Linked DNA regions of Homo sapiens: region 1 is linked to region 2. The links come from fine-mapping of genetic effects on gene expression. Tissue or cell type: whole blood. Region 2 holds a variant in brackets; the other region holds the start of a gene. All regions are shown on one strand. Distances are between the middles of the regions.

Region 1 (10,164 bases), 22 kb before region 2:
GAGGAGGAAAGAGTAACTTTGCAGAAAACAAACTCTGCCTCAAGCCAGATGAGCAGGGTTAACATCAACACTGATAAGTCATACTGGTAGTATACATCCCTAATATGTGATGAGAATGACACTTTAGCCCTGTGGTCTTCCTTCCAAAAGCATATTACATTCTTGGCCTAACCACAATGAAAACATCAGATAAATCCCAAAGAACGTTCTATAAAAATACCTGACCACGGCTGGACACAGTGACTCACGCCTGTAATCCCAGCACTTTAGGAAGCTGAGGAGGGTGGATTGCTTGGTTCTAGGAGTTCGAGACCAGCCTGGGCACCATGGTGAAACCCCATCTCTACAAAAAGTACAAAAATTAGCAGAGCATGATGGCACACATCTCTGGGCCCAGCTACTCCGGACATTGAGGTCAGAGGATCACTTGACCCCAGAGTGTTGAGGCTGCAGTGAGATGAGATCGTTCCACTGCACTCCAGTCTTGGTGACAGAGGGAGATCCTGTCTCAAAAAAACAAACAAACAAAACCTGACCAGTAATGTTCAAAACTGCCAAGGTCACTAAATACAGGGAAAGTCTGAGAAATTGTCACAACCAAGAGGAGCTAAGGAGACATAATTACTAAATGTAATGTGGTATTGTGGATGGGATCCTGGGATAGTGAAAGAACATTAAGGAAAAAACCTGTGGAAACCTGATAAAGTATGGTCTCTGTGATAATGTATCAATACTGGTTTATTAATACAGACAAATGATCACAGGGATGTAAGACGTTAATAATATGGGAAACAGTGTAGGATAGGCAGGAACTCTGCAGTATCTTTGCAATGTTTCTGTAAATCTAAATTTTAAAGTCTATTTTTAAAAATTATAACAAATTTATGATCAACGGCATCCCTGGAATTTTACTCAGTGCATCTAGGACACAAAAGATACTTAAAATATGGTCTTTGCCTTCAAGAAGCTTGTTGTCGCAGAGTGAAGACAAATGCTCATGAAACTAGTATAAAATACAAAAATAAGAAAAAATTAAATTGAAGAGTAAAGATAAAACTATATTAAGAATATAAAGAAGGTCTAGAATTATCAGGAAAGATTTGGTCAAGGAGATAAAACTTGAATTTGTACCTTAAAATATACTTCAGAGTAGCAAAGTTAAAAAAAAAAAAAAAGAATAAACTAAGCTCACAACAACCAGAAGGGTGAAGAAATAAGAAAAAGCTAACAGAAATTAAAATGGCTGGGGCATGGTGGCTCATGCTTATAAACCCAGCACTTTTGGAGGCCAAGGCAAGGGGGATCACTTGAGGCCAGGAGTTTGCCTAGGCAACATATGAGACCCCATCTCTCTCCATAATATCTTTAAAAAAAAGAAAAATAAAAACATTCAGCTCTGAAAAGTGAAGACTTAAATAGGAGACATAATAGCAGTGCTCAAACACTTTAAGGGTCATGTGGCAGAACTAACAGAGTTACACCTATACCCATTTAACTTACAAGCCAACCTCTGGCAAAATGTGACCAATGCTCAAGGACAAAGAGAGTGACAGCTGTTCAGTGGAGCCACAACAGGAAATGCCAATATGGATAGACAGGAAGCAGGTGGCTAAGTTCTCTACAACTTTTCAAAGGACAGTATGTATGTGAGCCCAAAGAAGTAAAAATCAGATTCTAATTCTGCAAATGTTTACTGACTATCTTAAGTGCCGGGCTCTTTCAAATACATTATCTTGTTTAATATTCGCAACACATCTATGAGCATGTATTAATGTAATAGAGGCTTAACATAAAAATAGAATTAAACCCTGCATGGAAACAGGAACATGTCAAAATTCTATACCATCCCCCACTCTCTGATAGGGACTCCAGAGCAGTTTTAAAAAGCCAAACAGTCTGAAGGCCCAGATACCTATATAACAATTTATTTCCTCTTGCTCTTTCCCTCAGTCAAGCTCTGTGGCTCTCAGCCTTTCATATTCGTAAGAATTTTATACAACTATACATACAAAAACATGCAGACCATACTTTTTGAGCAATTTATGGAATTTTCCAGAAGAGTTTTCATCTTACATGATTTTTGCCTCATGCACTAACTTGAGGACCTAACCCTGGGATGAGGTGCAACTCCACTGCAGTCTTACTCCATGGGTACTGTAAGGCAGGATCAGGAAGAGGAAACGGAAAGGTACCATCCTATTACATGAAGAACAACATTCTAACAAAGACATAAAATGTATTTACATAAAATGTAAGAATGACATGTTATGTGGGGAAGTTCAACACTGGAAAACAAGAGCAGCTCATCTGCACCTGCAGACCTTTGCACTCACTGTTTCATTTACCAGGAAAGCGCTACCATTTTTCAGGTCACAACTCAAATACCTTCTCCTTAATGAGGCCTCCTCTCACTAAGTAACCCTCCACCCACCTTTCAGTCATTCACTTGTCACATCAGCTTGTTTTATTTTCTTCATAATTCATATTAGGGGTCAGCAAACATTTTCTATAAAAGGCCAGACTATAATCTATAGGCCAAATCCACCTTGCCCCGTTTTATATGGCTAAGAATGGTTTTACATTTTTAAATGGCTAGGGGAAAATATTTTTAAAAACTCATTAATATTCTGTGACATGTGAAAATTTTATGAAATTCAAATTTCAGTGTCCCAAGTTTAACTGGAATATAAACATATTTGTTCACGTACTGTCTGTGGCTGCTTTTGTACTAAAACAGAATTGAGTAGTTGCAAAAGAGATCATATGGCCCAAAAACCCTGGTATGTACTGTACTTCCTGGTCCTTTACCAAAAAAAGCTTACTAACCACTGATTTATATCATTATCTGAAATGATCCTATTTGCTTGTTTGTTGTATATTCCTCATTCCCATACATACAGAATAAAGCTTAATTAGGGAAGAGGCCTTGTCTGTTTTGTCCCAACAATGTAGCCCAGTACTTAGAAAACATCCTGGAACAAAGTAAGGGCTCAATAAACATTTGATGAATTAATGAATGATCCATAAATGCCACTCTGAGGAGCTTAAACCTAAGCCCTGAGCCATTATATGTTCTGCACATTTATGAGAGGCATAAGCAGTCTTGCAGAAAAGGGGAAATATTCTACTATCAAGAAGGCCCAGTTTAAAGTAATGGTGGTTGGTCACCAACTAGTCTAGGGCACTGGGGTTCTTCATCAAATTGTAGACTACAGGTCTTTTGTGCTCATAAAAGAGTCCTTCTGCAAGGTGTCCCAACACTGTCAGCGGTCTGTGCTTCTGTTTATCTTAAGATGCAAATGCTCTGAGAAATCTCATTCTTATACACAGTACACAGCACCTACACCATACCAAATCTTAATCAATGCTCATAATTATAACAGTTCTACATCACATGCTAATGAATTTTTAACGTCTAAAATTTTCCTATGCTGCTGATCAGCAATCTATAAGCAGCTCAAAACTCTTCAGAAATTAAAAGGTTACCACCCACAGACCAGAAGCAGCTTTTTAATCTTTCTACACTAGCCAGAGAGTGGGTGATTGCAAAAAAATACAAGCCAACTCTGTTGGTAGAGGACAGGGTTATTAAGTTAAAATCCCATCTATAAGCATCGTTTTGTCACATGACACTAGTAAAACTACCACCTACTCACAATTTGAGTTTCAATCTCCTAATATACAGAGAAAAAAATGTATCTACCTCCTGGAACAAATCAAAGTTTTGTTTTATTTTAAAGCAGCTATCTGATATTTATGCCCTGGATTTTTTTTTTTTAAGAACAGAATAAGCTAATTTAGGAATTCACACCTTTCGTAGAGATGCTTATGGTACAGGTACCTCTGACGGCTAGGCTCTACCAACACTAACGTGTAACGTGTCACAAAAGCCAACGGGCGTTGCGGGGGCCGGGGGTAGCCAACAGCTCAAGTGGGCTGCTTCACTCCGTGGCAGATTCACCTGGGGATTCCTCACCAAGAATGTTGTTAAGGGACGAACCAAACCAACCACAAATGATACCCCTTTACCGAGGCTGAAAAAGCAGAGATTCGCAAGCTATAAACGAATCTCTGGCCCTTTAGGGAAGGTGCAACTCGCTGCACCTCTTTCCCCTATCCTACAGGGGTTAACAGGGGGCATCCTGAGGCCGAGACCAAGCCCAGCCAGCTCCTCCTCACATCCCACCTCCCACTACATATTCTCCCCAGTACGCCGGGCTCCCTCCTCCCCTCGAAAGACAGTTCAAAATCAAAACAATAGGTGCAAAACTGGTTTCAGGTGGAAATGGCTGAGTCCTGGTGGCTAACTTCTGGGACGCCATGGCGATCGAGGGCTCCTAAAACCCCAGATTCCGACGGGAACCGGCTCCTAAACAGTCCCTCGGGCCTCGGCCCGACTTCTCACACGCCCCTCCCTCACCTCGGCCCTGGGATGCTGGGAAGGGAACGAGGCGAGGGGCTGGAGGGGAACCCCAGGTCAAAATGACAGCGGAATGAGCCGGGAAAGGAAAGAGGCCCCGTGGGATGCTGGGGGTCGAGTCCTAGGCCCGGGGCTTCAACCTCGAACGGGGGCGACGGCAGGTCCCAGCCCCGACAGGCCGCGAGCGGGAGGCCAGGCCCGCGTCCGCTGCGCCGCCAGGCCACGCTCCCTCACGACTGTCCCCACCCACCGCGGAGGGCCGTGAGGGGGCCGCGACCGCCGCCAGCGTCCGGGGCGGGGGCGCTCACTCACCGGCGGGGAGGGGAGGAGCAGCCGGCGTCTCCGCCAGCGCCGTCGCTCGAGCTCAAGCGCCTGCTCCTTCCACTGCGGCCGCCGCACCCGGTCCATCCCCCACAACCACCCCCCCCTCCCGACCCTCCCCCCGCGCCGCCTCAGCCGCCGCCGCCTCAGTCACCGCCACCGCCGCCGCCGCCTCAGCCCCGGCGCGGGAGGGCGAACCGGCGCGAGAGAGCGAGCGCGCGCGCGCCCCCGCCACAGCCGCCACCGCCCACAACCTCCGCCCCCGGCCGGCGGCGCACGCGCAAGGGAGCGGGCGGACGGGCGCGCGCACGCCGCAGGGGCGGGGATGGGCCCTGGAAGGCGTGGCCCCTCCCCTAGCCCGCCTTCCCACGCGGTCTCTGGGCTGGTTGAGCTGCGCCGCTGCAGGTAGTGCTGAGTTGCTCCAGGTAAGCTCCTCCTCTCAAAAAGCTCTAGGAACCGAGCCACCCTCGCCCTAGGAGCAACGCCCCTGAGTAATATGGGGTTTCGTCGGATTTCTGCCCGCCGCTCTGGATCACACGTTTGTTCTCCCTATTTGAGTCGCAAGGCCTTCCTTCATTCCACCTAGCAGGCTGCTTGGAAAAGGGCAGAGACTCATTACTTTGCACCAGGTATTACCACTGAAGGGATTGTAAGCAGCCACCAGCCCATCCCTTTATAATTCCCATTTTCCTAATTTATTTTATTTTTATTACTTATGTAATGAGGCTTCTTCCGTGTTCAAGGAGCTGGGAGTACCATATGGGGTCAACGGAGTCCCTGGTCTCATGAAGTTTGAGATCTGGTGGAGAAGGAAAACATTCATGGGAGAATCAGACAAAATTAAGTTTTCAATTAGTAAAAATCTTCTGAGAGGTATATGGTACTAAGAGAATCTTTATGGGGGAATTGATTTAGTTGAGGATGAAGAGGGTAGAATCTGAGGAATTGAGTTGGGAGGAGTTAGTTGCTCCAAGGGGTGAGGTCTTGGCATGGCCAGAATGGGGAGCGCTAAAGAATATTGAATGTGGAGTAGACTGCGAGTGTGGGAAGAGGTAGGCGAGAACAGGTGAGGATTGGGGACCTATTTATTTATTTATTTATTGAGACAGAGTCTCACTCTGTCACCCAGGTCACCCAGGCTGGAGTGCAATGGCTCGATCTCAGCTCACTGCAACCTCCGCCTCCTGGGTTCAAGCGATTCTCCTGTCTCAGCCTCCGGAGTAGCTGGACTACCAGCGCACGCCAGCGCACCTGGCTAATTTTTGTATTTTTAGTAGAGATGGGGTTTCGCCATCTTGGCCAGGCTGGTCTGGAACTCCTGACCTTGTGATCTGCCCGCCTCGGCCTCCCAAAGTGCTGGGATTGCAGGCATGAGCCACCACACCCGGCCGGATTTGGGACTTTAATCTGAGTGCTTGGTAGAAGCTATTCAGGTTTTTTTCAGCAGGGTTGCAGGGGAAATAACTTGATCATTATGTCTGTTTTTTGTTTTTGAGAGGCAGACTGGAGTGCAGTGGCGCGATCTCGGCTCCCTGCAATCTCTGCCTCCCGGGTTCAAGTGATTTTCCTGCCTCAGCCTCCCTAGTACCTGGGACTACAGGTGCACGCCACTGCACCCAGCTAATTTTTTTAGTATTTTTAGTAGAAACGGGGTTTCACCATGTTGGCCAGGATGGTCTGAATCTCCTGACTTCATGATCCACCCACCTCGGCCTCCCAAAGTGCTGGGATTACAGGTGTGAGCCACCTTGCCCCCAGCCCATTATGTCTGTTTTTAAGTTACTTAGATAGCAACGTGAAGAGTGGTCTGATGGGAGTCTCAAAGCTGGGGCCGGGAAGCCAGTTAGGAGGCCACTGGCCACATAGTCAAGGCAAAGTAGGAGGGTAGTGACAGAGAAGAGTGCTAATGTAGTGGTAAAATGGACAGGACTTGGCAATAAATTGAATGAGGAGTGAAGGAGAAGGAGGTGGCAAGGTTTACTTAGATTTGAGGTTGGTGGAGGATGCATTTATAGATTTCAGAAGCACTGAAGGAGCCACCTGAGGTAACTCAAAATGGATGATAAACCTAAATTTAAAAGCTAAACCTATAAAAGAAAATTTTAGAAGAAAACATAGAAAAAGTATTTGTGACCTTGGGATAGGCAAAGACTTCTTAGGACACAAAAAATATGAACCATAAAAAGTGATTCATGGCCTGGCTCACACCTGTAATCCCAGCACTTTGGGAGGCCAAGGCAGGCAGATCACTTGAGCTCAGGAGTTCAAGACCAGCCTGGGCAACATGGCAAAATGCTATCTCTACAAAAAATACAAAAGTTAGCTGGGCTTGTTGGCACGTACCTGCAGTCTCAGCTAACTTGTGGGGCTGAGGAAGGAGGATCACTTGAACCTGGGAGGCGGAGGTTGCAGTGAGCTGAGATGGCGCCACTGCACTCCAGCCTGAGTGACAGGGTGAGACCCTGTCTCAAAAAAAAAAAAAAAAAAAAGAAAGCAATTGATAAGTTGAACTCTATCAAAATTAAAAACTGGTACTCTTTGAGAGACAACATTAAGAAAATGAAAAGGCAAGCCACAGGTGGAGAGTTTGCAATAGAAAGCATTAGACAAAAGTCTTGTATCCAGAATACATAAAGAACTGTTATAAATGAGTAATAAGCCAGCCCAATAAACCAATGGGCAAAGGCTTTTTTTATATCTTGTAGATAGTTCACAAGATACAAAAATGGCCTATAAGCAATGAAGAGATTACCAACATCTTTAGTCAACTAGGGATTTTTCCATTTAAAACCACAACACTCTCATTAGGATAGCTAAAATTAAGACCGATGACCCAGCAATCACACTCCTACACATCTCCTTAACCATACTTGATCTCTAAAGGCTGACAATAACACACCAGGGACCCTGTAATCCCAGCACTTTGGGAGGCCAAGGCAAGAGGATCGCTTCAGCCCAGGAGTTCAAGACCAGCCTGGGCAACCTAATGAGACCCCATTTCTACAAAAAAAATTTTTTTTAATTAGCCAGTGTGGGAGTGTACACCTGTAGTCCTAGCTACTGGGGAGCCTGAGGCAGGAGGATCCCTTGAGCCCAGGAGTTCAAGGTTGCAGTGACCTATGATCGCACCACTGTACTCCGGCCTGGGTACCACAGCAAGACCATATCTCTTAAAAAAAAAAAGTCTTTGGCTGGGCGCAGTGGCTCACGCCTGTAATCCCAGCACTTTGGGAGGCCAATGTGGGCAGATCATGAGGTCAGGAGTTTGAGACCAGCTTGGCCAACATGGTGAAACCCCATCTCTACTAAAAATACAAAAATTAGCCGGATGTGGCAGCGTATGCCTCTAATCCCAGCTACTCAGGAGGCTGAGGCAGGAGAATCGCTTGAACTTGGGAGGCGGCGGTTGCAGTGAGCCAAGATCATGCCATTGCATTCAAGCCTGGGTGACAGAGTGAGACTATGTCTCAAAAAAAAAAAAAATTTAAAGACAATAACAAAGTCATACTTTCACTTAACATGATATAACTATCCTGCATACTATTGAAAACATAACAACACTTTTCCCAAGGGGATGCAAAGTCCTTGAGTGATGTTTCTTCTCCACCTTTGATGTCTTATAACTTAATACTGCAATATAAAGTTACCTATCATTAATACGTCTCCATCTTGTAGTAGCAACCGAATTTCCTGCTTAGTAATCAGGATTAGTCACCTCAGCCAGTAGAGGAACTTCCCACTTTACCTGTTGATTCAGAGGCATGAAAGACCCAAGGTGGCCAGGTGACCACCTCAACTCCCAATTCAATGGAAATGTTGTTGGGTCTCCTGGTGGAAGCATTCCTTCTTTTGGAACTAAGACCTCTTGGTCAGAAGAGCCTCTGGACGTTTCTACTTTCAGGAAAAATGAACAACCAAGTACACTCTTCAAAGTTCTGCCAACTGGGGGATTTTTTTTTCACCATTATTCTTCAGGGATGTCCCAGAAAGGGACACTAGTTTTATTTTCACTGGTGCCTGCATATTGTGCAGAACCATCATAAACCTGGGCTATGAACCACAACTGAGTTTTCCCTTCTTCAGTCAACTGGTCATAAGGAATGCCCCATGGCGCCATAGGTGCAGGCTGGGAGAGAGAAGGTAATGTAGCAGGAGTTGGGGCCATGGATATTTGGGCCACTTCCTCGTGCAACTTACCTATGCCTTCAGGGCCCATTTGAGCCCAATCTCATATATACCACTTCAATTTGATAATGGAGTGTTGCTGTGAGTGCACAACTTTATAGCTTGGTGGATCAGATAACACTTAGTTCATGATGAGCAGCTCAGGTCACATGGTAACTTGATGACCCACGGTTAACTGTTCAGTCTCTGCTTAGGCCCAGCAAGCCAAACGTTGTTTCTCAAGAGGACAGTACTCTTCTGCAGGGCTTTGCTCCAAAATCTTAAGGGTCTGCAGCGTGATTCACCTACAGTGGCCTGCCAAAGGCTCTAAACAGCATCTGTATCAGCCCCTTGCAGAATGAGACTCTGGGTTGGTTTTCAGAAATTGTGGCCCTAAGGGTTCCTTTCAGGACAGATATGGAAGCTTCCAGGTCATCTATGCATAGCTTAAAGCTTTAAACACTGAAAGGTGGGAATCTGAAACCCTGAGCTCATCCTTTTCTTTGCCTGCTTTCTTCAGTGCAGTTATGGCCAATGCCATTCTGTTCCTTGGTTTAACTAAAATATTCTAAGGTAACAAATACACAGTCACGCATAACCTTGCTTTCTATAGGTGTTTCATTAGGCGTATTCGATGCTTTATCATGCCATGGACTCCCAGTGCCCTCTTCACCACTGGAAATAGAGTCACTAGTGCCTTTAAATGTAATCATATAAGAATTCATGAAATTCAAGAAATTCAAGAAAACGCAGAACAAATTCAGAAAACTCATCCTCAAGATTCCATTCCTCTAGAGCCACTTTCAGTACCAAATCGGTATCAGTCAGGGTTCCAACAGAGAAGCAGAACCAGTAGGAGATACACAGTGAGATTTACTTCAAGGAATTGACTTATGTGGGGGGAGGGGGGCTGATTAGGCAAGTTGGAAATCTATAATGCAGGCAGGAGAATAGGCTGGAAATTTCAGGCAAGGGCTGAAGTCACAGTCCACAGGCAGAATTTCTTCTTCAGAATTTCTTCTTCTTCAACTCTGCTTTTAAAGACTTTCTACTGATTGAATCCAGACCAACCAGATTATCTAGGATAATCTTTCTTACTTAAAAACAATTTATGAATTTTAGTTATATCCACAAAAACACCTTCAGGCCCAGCATAGTGGCTCATGCCTGTAATCCCAACACTTTGAGAGGCTGAGGCAGGAGGTTCACTTGAGCCCAGGAGTTTGGGACAAGCCTGGGCAACATAGTGAGACCTCATC
Region 2 (10,164 bases):
CTGCCTCAACCTTCCAAAATGCTGGGATTATAGGTGTGAGCCACTGCAGCAGGCCTGCAGCAATAATTTATCACATTTCCAAATACTTTGTGTCTCTCAGTGTGTATTTCACTTTGCTAATATGGGTAACCAGGAAAGAATGTAGCTTCACCAAATAAAAGTTAGTAGAAACGAATTAAGGTCTAGAGTGACCAAAAAAGACTGTTACATCTAGTAATCATCATATGTGGGAGCAAGGAAGCATTGAAACTGCCATAAAGAATTTTATTTCCATGAAAGTAAGACAAACAACTGTTGTATAGAAAACTATCATATACTAGTGACTTTGAATTTCTCGGCTGGGCCCAGTGGCTCATGCCTGTAATCCCAGCACTTTGGGAGGCCGGGATGGGCATATCACTTGAGGTCAGGAGTTCAAGACCAGCCTGACCGACATGGTAAAACCCTGCCTCTACTAAAAATAGAAAAATTAGCCAGGTGTGGTGGTTTGCACCTGTAATCCCAGCTACTTGGGATGCTGAGGCACGAGAATCGCTTGAACCTGGGAGGCGGAGGTTGCAGTGAGCAGAGATCATGCCACTGCACTCCAGCCTGGGCCACAAACTCCATCTCAAAAAAAAAAAAAAAAAAAAATTTCGACACTTCATCTTAGCCAAAAGGCCAAGAAGTGATATGACTTAAAATTTCTAATGATTGTGCTAGTTTTTCTTACTTCAGGGCCTTTGCTTATGCTATTCCCTGTTCCTGATACTCCTTCCTCTCCAACAGAGTTGGCTTAAATGGTTCAGGTCTCAGCTTGAATGTCATTTCCTCAGGGTGGCCTTCCCTGACCCCACAAAGTCAGCTGCTCTTATGACATTCTCTCAAAACACTCTGAATTTCCTCTTAGCTCAACATACCCATAACTTCCCCTTACATTTCTGCCTTCCTCTCTGGACTGTAAGCTCCACCAGTGCAGGGACTTTGTCTCTGTCATTCTGAACCCACTGACCTCCATGTATCTTTAGGAGCTCAATAAATATTAATTAAATTAATAAATATTAAATTAAATATTAATTAAATCAATAAATATTGATAAATATTAATTAAATATTTATTTAATTAATATTTATTAAGATTTACAAATGAGTGAATGGTGGTCCTAGTCATATTAAATGAAGTATAATCCTGACTTATATTTGTATAACTCTTTTCTCTTTTTAGTACATTTTTACTTCTGTTTTCCCATTTGACCCTCCAAAAACTCAGCTCTACCTGGAGAGTCTCTCTCAGTCCTTAAAGTGCATATGAGATCCCCTAGCTGTTAGGTGTGAGCATGGACTGGAGGTGGATGGCCTGCCTTCCCATCCTAATTATGCCACTTCAGATCTGTGTCTTGGGCAAATTCCCTCACCTCTTTGTGCCCCAGTGTCTTCGTTTGTGCTTACCTCATAGGTGTACTATGAGGAGCAAATGAATATATAATGTAAAGATCTTGAACAGTGCCAGATACCTAACAAATGCTAGCTATCATTCCAGGAGCAGCATGAAGATGAAGAGTATAGGGGCCAGTATTACAGATTAGGCATCCCCAATATTGTGCTGAGTAGAAGAAGCTGGACACAAAACAGCACACACTGTGCATTTCCATTACATGAAGTTCAAGGATAGGCAAAACTAGCCTATGATGACAGAGGTAGGCTAGAACAGTAGTGGGCGGGGGCAAGCACACTGACTGGGAAGTACACAGTAGTCTTCTTGGGTGCTGGAAATGTTTTGTGTCTTGATCTGGGTGGTGGTTACACAGGTAAGTATGTCTACAGAAATTTTTTTTTTTTTTTTTGAGATGGAGTCTCGCTCTGTTGCACAGGCTGGAGTACAATGGCACCATCTCAGCTCACTGCAACCTCCGCCTCCAAGATTCAAGCAATTCTCGTGCCTTAGCCTCCCAAGGAGCTGGGATTACAGGCATATGCCACCATACCTGGCTAATTCTAATTTTTGTATTTTCAGTAGATACAGGGTTTCGCCATGTTGGCCAGGCTGGTCTCGAACTCGTGACCTCAGGTAATCTGCCCACCTCAGCCTCCCAAAGTGCTGGGAGTACAAGCGTGAGCCACCGCACCCAGCCAGAAATGTATTCTTAAGATTTGTGGCTGGGCACGGTGGCTCACGCTTGTACTCCCAGCACTTTGGGAGCCCGAGGTGGGTGGATCACATGAGTTCAGGAGTTCGAGACCACTCAGTGAGCCAGTCAGCTCCAGGGGAACAGAACTCCGACATCCTCCCTGCCGGGGCCTCACGGTCAGGATTGCTAGTGATTGGGATCTCAGGCTTATTGATCTAGTTTGTCTTCAAGTGATAGAAATCCAAAGCAAATAGGCATATGCAAAATCAGAGCCATTTATTGGGAGAATGCTGGTGTGCTTATGGAACATAGCCTTGGGAAGTGCAGGGAGGGCCTCAGAGACAAGTGGGCCCTTGGACACTTTCTCCCCTCTCTGCTTTTCCTAGTTTTATCAGATCAGCTTTCTCCCCATAATGGGGGATGTGGCTGCCATTAGTTCCTGAGCCTCATGCTAGAAAACCTGTATCCTGCGTCAGTCCAGTCCAGCAAATCTGAGGGAAAGGCTCTGATTGGCCCATTTTGAGTACAATGCCCATCCCTAGACCGATCAACTGTGGCCATGAGCGTATGACCAATAACACCCACTGAAATTACATAGTGATTAGAAAGCAGAAAGGAACAGGTCCCCAAAAGAAGGTGTTGTTCCCAGAAGAAAAGGGGGTGCTGGGCAGGGAAGACAATATCACAGATGTCACAGTGGTGGGACAGAGAGGGATACAACTAAGTCCATGAAGGCTGGCCTGTGTCTCTTCTAATTAAACATAACTTTCTCAGTCCCTGTTGTCCAGTAATCCAGAGACAAGGTCAGCAGGATCCTACCTTTGAGATCCAACTAACTCAGCAAGTGGTGGGAGGGGCACCAGAGAAACATCAGGTCCTGTCTCAAGCCAGGACCTTCAGCCCTGTCAACAGGACAGTCCAAGAGAGTGGTGGAAGCTCACCAGGCTGGGCCCCCACAAACCAGTCCTGATGCCACAACTAACAGGCTGGGCCTCAGTGTCCTCCTCTGTAAAATGAGAGCTGTTGAGCTACCTGATTAGAGAGATAACATTGAGTTCCTGAATGCCAAACAGCTTGGATTTAAATCTCAGCTCTAGGCCTGGCATGGTGCCTCACACTTGTAATCCTAGCACTTTGGGAGGACGAGGCGGGTGGATGGCTTGAGCCCAAAAGTTTGAGAGCAGCCTAGGCAACATGGCAAAATCCCACCTCTACAAAAAATACCAAAAAATTAGCCAGTCATGGTGACGTGCACCTGTAGTCTCAGCTACTCAGCAGGCTGAGATGGGAGGACCATTTGAGCCCAGGAGGTTGAGGCTGCAGTGTGCACTCCAGTCTGGGCAACAGAGAGACCCTGTCTCAAAACTCTATCAATTCATCAATCTTAGCTCTACCCTTAGCAGCTCTGTGGTTTTAGAAACTTTTAAAAAATTTTTACTTGTTATTGGCCGGGGGCGGTGGCTCACGCCTGTAATCCCAGCACTTTGGGAGACTGAGGTGGGCAGATCATGAGGTCAGGAGATTGAGACCATCCTGGCCAACATGGTGAAATCCCGTCTCTACTAAAAATACAAAAATTAGCTGGGCTTGGTGGCACATGCCTGTAATCCCAGATACTCGGGAGGCTGAGGCAAGAGAACCCCTTGAACCAGGGAGTTGGAGGTTGCAGTGAGCCGAGATCTTGCCACTACACTCCAGCCTAGCAACAGAGCAAGACTCTGTCTCAAAAAATAAAATAAAATAAAATAAATTTTTACTTGTTATTTTGAAAAGAATTTTAAATTTACAGGATATTTTCAGGAGTAAGCCAAATAACTCCTGTATACCCTTAACCCAGAATCTGCAATTTCTACCATGTTGCCGCACTTATTTAGTCATTCTTTCTCTCTTTTTTTTCTGAGCCATTTGAGAGTACATTGCATATATCATGTCCCTTTACCCTTCACAGTTCAGTGTATTTCCTAAGAGCAGGGACTTTCTCTTACATAACTGCAGTGCAGTTATTAAATTCAGTAGATTTATTATTGATAATGATACCTTCTCATTGACAGTTCATATTCCAAATGTGGCCAGTTGTCTTGGCAACCCTCCAGCTTTTTTTTTTTCCCCTCCAATACTGGATCCAGGCCAGGATCAATGACTGCATTGAGTTGTCATGTCATGATATTGGAATGCTCATACACTGTTGGTGGGAATGTGAAATGGTGTGGCTACTTGGGAAAATAGTCTGACCGTTCCTCAAAAAGGTAAATACAGAGTTTCCACATGACTCCAGCAATTCCACTCCTGGGTATATACCCAACCGAAATGAAAACATGTCCACACAAAAACTTGTGTACAAATGTTCACAGCAGCATTATTGATAATAGTCAAAAGGTGAAAACTACCTAAATCTCCAACAATGATGAGTGAATGAACAAAATGTGGCATAGCCATACAATGGATTACTATTTGGCCATAGAAAGGACTGAAATACTGACACAAGCTGCAATGTGGATGAAACTGGAAAACGTGTGAAGTGCAGAGAGCCAATCACAGAAGACCACACGTTGTATGATTCCATTTACATA[A/C]GATGTTCAGAACAGCCAAATCCATAAAGACACAAAGTAGATCAGTGGTTGCTCAAACCTGGGACAGAGCGCACACACGCGCACACGTGTGTGTTAAAAACAACAACAGAAATCAGCTAGAGGTGCATGGTGGCTGCCCTTAGACCTGGCCCGTGCACTCGTTTGCCACAGTCTCCACCATGCCCTGTTACTCCCCGACACTGCACCTAGGGGCCAGGTCCGTTTAGCACAGCACTTCCATCTGTGTTCCTCACACCCTGCTGCTTCCCCTCACCGACTTCACACCTGTCCTGCCCCAGAGGAAGTTAATTTGGTGATGGCCTATGTGAAGACAGTCAGTAGGTGGTTCCCGCCTGGAATCCCAGCACTTTGGGAGGCCAAGACGGGAGGATCACTTGAGCCCACGGGTTTAAGACCAGCCTGGGCAACATGGCAAAACCCTGTCTCTATAAAAAATACAAAACATTAGCCAGGTGTGGTGGCATGAGCCTGTAGTCCCAGCTTCTCAGGAGGCTGAGGTGGGAGAATCACTGGAGCCTGGGAGGTTGAAGCTGCAGTTAGCTATGATCGTGCCACTGCATTCCAGCCTGGGTGACAGAGCAAGATCCTGTCTCACAAAAAAAAAAAAAAAAAAAAAAGGAAAGCAAGGGTGAGTCAATGACAAGAAGGTGTGCAGTGTGGGTGACAAAAACAAGGGGGGAGTCTGCAAGGGGGAGCAGCTTGAGGGGAGCAGAGACTTCAAGGGGAGGAAGCCTGAGTGACTCAGCAATCATTGGGGGACATTAGGGCAGAGGGAGGAAGTACAGGCCGGGTGCGGTGGCTCACGCCTGTAATCCCAGCACTTTGGGAGGCTGAGGCAGGCAGATGACTTGAAGTCAAAAGTTCGAGACCAGCCTGGCCAACATGGTGAAACCCCATCTCTACTAAAAATACAAAAAATGAGCTGGGCGTGGTGGTGCACGCCTGTAATTCCAGCTACTCAGGAGTCTGAGGCAGGAGAATAGCTTGGCCCCAGGAAGTGGAAGTTGCAGTGAGCCAAGATCACACCATTGCACTCCAGCCTGCATGACAGAGTGAGACTCTGTCTTGAAAACAACAACAACAACAAAAAAAAAAACAAAAGAAGGAAGAAGTGCAGGATCCTGGGTGGAACATGTCGGGGTATTCAGGCACCAGGCAGGAGGCCATGACACCCCCCATTCCCCACCAAGGGATTCCTGGTGCCAGTGAGGGCTGAGCCATCAGGGACAGGGACAGGTGCACCCCTTCAGTGGCCATGTCCCTCCAGGCCGGCCTCCCCAGTGCTGCCCCCATGGGCCCCGCCTCTTCCAAAGCTTGCACCCCAGGAGACAATAGAAGCACCTCATCCTGGCATTTAGGGACCCTGGGAATCTGGCCCCACCTTATCCTTCCAGCCTGTACCTGCTGCCTCCGCTTATTCAAGACCTAAGTTTCCTGGTGGCCGTGCCCCCCATGGGGTGGCTGTCATCCAGGCAGGGGTATTCCTGGGGAGCCCTTCCCTTCCCTACCTCCAATGCACCTACAGGGCCCCTACTATTAATAGCAGCACCTCTGCCTGGGGCTCCCTGAGAGGCTGGGGTGGGAGAGGGGTGGTCCAGCAGGCAGTAATCAATGTCCCCAAATGGTGGCAAGTGTGTGTGAATATGTGTGCCGGTGTCTGTGTGTGTGTGTGTGTGTGTGTGTGTGTGTGTGTCTGTTTGTGTTTGTGTGTGTGTGTGGTGGGAGTTTCTGCACTGTGATAGGAGGAAAGCACAAGTGGTTCTGGGATCCAGGGCAGAAGGGGCTCCTCTGTGTCCAGGGCTCAGGGATGCTCCCCAGAGTACCGGATATCTCAGCTAGGACTGAAGGGACAGGAAGTCACTCAGTGCAGGAGAGTAAGGGGGGAACTCTAGGCAGTGGGGACGGTGTGTAGGAAACATGACGGTGTGGAAAATAAAAAGTTCCTCTTCAAAGTTTCCCTTCTTGTTAAAGAATAAATAATAAATGTTAAAAGTAATAGTTTCTTTTAAAGACTAACTTCCTCTTCCTTCCTTATTTGGAAATGTTATTACTTTTCTAAGACCTTTTGCAAGCAACTTCCTCTTTTCCTTTTGTTCTCCATTGCCTTTACCTATTTAGGAAAGTTTTAAGTTGTTAGCCAATTGAGTTTAGCTTAGATTGTGAGGTCCGTCTCCAAGCAACGAAGAGAGGACACAGCAGTAAGGACCCAGTGTGTAAGGGATAAATATTCCTGCCTTTCTTTATTCATCGTGCTCTTGTGGCAAAATTGCTGATGGGCAGCATCCTTTCTGCAGAAAGTAAAATTGCCTTGCTGAGAAAACTTTTTGTCTGAATGCTAATTTTTCCTTGTGGCACCAAGGAACAAGCATTTTGTTTTCAAGAATCACGTGACCCACCTGGGCACATGGGGTGGTCTGAAAGGCAGGGCTGTGGGGCTGCCCAGGTGAGCCCTGGTGGACAAGGAGAAGGGCTTCCCTCTGAAGCTCTCAGGGCCACCAGCTGGGTGGTGGAGCCCAGAGGTGGCTTTCCCTTGGATCCCTTTGGGAGCCTGAATGGAGGGGTGTGGGTGGGGGAGACTGGAGGCAGTGAGGCTGGTGTGGTGGTAAAGTTCAGTTGAGCCCACTCCCACGTCAGGAGCAGAGTCAGGGTTTGAAGGCTGTGGCCCAGCAAGGGGGCTCAGAACTATTCCACAGTGCCCACGGCCCTCAGAATACAGGCTCAGCTTCTGTCCTGGGACTCGAGCTCTCCCAACCTGGCCCCAGTCCTACCTTCAGACTAGCACATCACTCCAGCAAGACACCCTCGGTCATCCCTGAGCTTTTGCAGAGGCTACCCTCCTGCCCTTGTCCCTACTTACTTAGGCGACCTCTCCTCACACTGCAGGGCTCAGCACACTGGCCTCCAGAAAGCCTTGCTTCATCCCCCACCCAGCACTGACCTGCAGACCATCAGGGTTGTCGGTTAAAGGACCAAAGTCCGGACAGGAGGAAGAGGTTTTGACATCTAGCGCACAGCAGGGTGACCAGAGTCAATGAGAGTGTGTTGCATTTTGCAAAACAACTGAGAGAGTCCGTATCAAATGTCTCTCTGCATTTAGATTGGAGAGGATGAAGGCCCTGAGGTCCAAGAACATGGAAACCTGACAGTGGACGCCAACAGCTGTGGAGAGAAGCCGGGCGACAGCTGTGGAGAGAAGCCGGGCGATATGCTCACGCTTCCGTGTGCCCAGCAATCCTGCTTTATCTTTTTAAATAAAGGTGATTCCTGATAACACTACCGTTTCTTGCAAATTTTGTAGTAGCATTGGAAAGGTGGCAGATGAGTCACAGGCAATCTGCTGCTTTGCGCCCTCCCTGCACAGAATGGGGGCTGTGCACACCCTAGTTTAGGCAGTATGCAGTCATGTGATCCTCTCAGTTACTCAGAAAAACTGAAAGGAAAAGAGACCTCAGAGAAGTATCAGGATGACCCCACCCACAGAAAATCATTACCAGTGGCTCTGAAGGGCTGAGGCTCTGAGCAGGTGCAAGGCAGAGTCCCACACATTGTGCATGGCCTCCCCACACTCACACTGCCCAGTGAGCATTTTCAGAAGGACCAGCGGCCCCTTCAGGTCTCGTCTGACTGTGTTAATCATGCTGAGAGGTCTCCAGGAGGATCCTGAAGTCCTGGGAACCAGACTGTGCTGGGGTTAGAGTGGCATGGGGTCAGAGTGGCTCCCATCAGGGAGCTTCCTCATGTGTTATTAAGAAGTTTGAGGGAGGTCCAGAAGGCCCTGCCCTTGTGCATGGCCGGTGGCTCAGTGTGCACAGCCTAGAACATGCTGTGACCCTGCCCACTACTGATGGTGGCCAGGGACTGTCCTGGAGTTCCACTGGTCAAATACGATTCTCCTTCCCCAATAAAGAGCAGGACCAGGAAGCAAGAAGTGACCTGGGGAGAGGGTGGGAGTGCTGTGGGGCTCCTTGTCTCCCCAGTGTGCTGTTGTCCATAAAATCCACTTTGGGGTTAAGGGTCCCCCAGGTGTGAATACTGAAGAAAGAAGAAAGAAAAAAAGAAAGAAAGAAAGAAAGAGAGAAAGAGAGAGAGGGAGGGAGGGAAAGGAGGGAAGGAGGGAGGGACGGAGGGTGGGAGGGAGGGAGGGAAAGAAACAGAGAGAGAGAAAGAAAATAAAAGAAAGGAAAAGGAAAAAGAAGGAAAGGAAGGTAAGGAAAAGGGAAAGGGGGTAAGGAGGAAAGGCAGAAAAGAAGCTGATCTTTCTCTTTCCTTCTTTCTTTCCTTTCTTCCTCCCTCCCTCCCTTCTCTCCTTCCTTCCTTCTCTCTCTCTCTCTCTCTCTCCTTCTCTTTCTCTCTCTCCCTCTCTCTTAGAACAAGAATTCAAGGGGAGCGCCACGAAGAGAGATTTCACAGAGAAAGTGAATTTAGTATTAAACAGGTTATAATTAAGCTAAGAGGCTACAATTAGGACTCTTAGTAATGAGGGGGAATCCATATGCTTGTTATGTCAAAAATGTAAGTAAGCCAATTACATATTCTAGTACAATAGATCTGTGCTAGAAAGTCAGACCAAACATGAGACCAATTAAGATGAGGCATGACTTTAAACATATAATGGATGATAAATCTAAAAACCCATTTTCACAGGAAACAGTTTGATGCAGGGCTGGTATGGAGTCATTGTGTCCAGTTTTATGTCTTGGATCCATAGGGGGAAAGTTACGTAATCATATTAACCTAAATGCTAGTTATTTATTTTACTTTTCTTATTTATTTTACTTTTCTGAATCAGCACACAAAGCATGAAAAGCTTAATTGTATTTACAGAAAATATAAAAATAAAACCATTTAAACAAGCTAGAGTTGACAGAATTTGGACAATAGGTGGGAAAAGGCCATGTAAAGTTATCAGCGGGGTCTTCGCTCATACCAGCCTGAACGCACCCGATCTTGTCGGATACAGCTGTCAGAGGCTATGGGACTTAGGAGTGGTACGCAGATGTCATTTCCCCGTGATAGCTCCCGAAATAGAGCTGAGAAGACAGGTACAGAGTTATAAAGGTGACCTCTAAATGAAGTTTGCTACAGGAGATGAGAAACAGTTACAATGAGTGTAGCCAGGGCATGGTACAAGTGAGCTAATTGCTCAACTTTTATGAAATTACAAATCTAGAAGTAGGGGGCTTACTCACATTTAGAGTTTTGAATAACTGCCAGAAAAATTAAAAACAGAAATGATTGAAAATATTTAGTGTGTTTCAGCCAGGCGTGGTGGCTCACATCTGTAATCCTAGCATTTTGGGAGGCTGAGACGGGTGGATTGCCTAAGCTCAGGAGTTCGAGACCAGCCTGGGCAACATGGTGAAACCTCGTCTCTACTAAAATACAAATAATTAGCTGGGCGTAGCAGCATGCGCCTGTAGTCCCAGCTACTCGGGAGGCTGAGGCAGGAGAATGGCTTCAACCCAT

What was found. PIP is the estimated chance that this variant, and not a neighbour inherited with it, causes the effect.
Region 1: it holds the start of TMCC1, and the variant in region 2 is fine-mapped to the expression of TMCC1 in whole blood (INTERVAL, PIP above 0.99).

Annotation. Positions count from the first base shown.
Region 1 is chr3:129,888,762-129,898,925 of GRCh38, forward strand. TMCC1 (transmembrane and coiled-coil domain family 1) reads right to left here and starts at 4,950. Exons shown (of 7, transcript NM_001017395.5): 1 at 4,733-4,950. TMCC1-DT (TMCC1 divergent transcript) reads left to right here and starts at 5,110. Exons shown (of 3, transcript NR_037893.1): 1 at 5,110-5,166. RefSeq lists enhancers at 3,532-4,324, 4,325-5,116 and a silencer at 4,478-5,207.
Region 2 is chr3:129,910,605-129,920,768 of GRCh38, forward strand. No RefSeq gene overlaps it. Among named protein-coding and RNA genes, the nearest start is that of TMCC1-DT, 22 kb to the left of the region's middle. The variant A/C (reference allele first, on the strand shown) is at 4,678.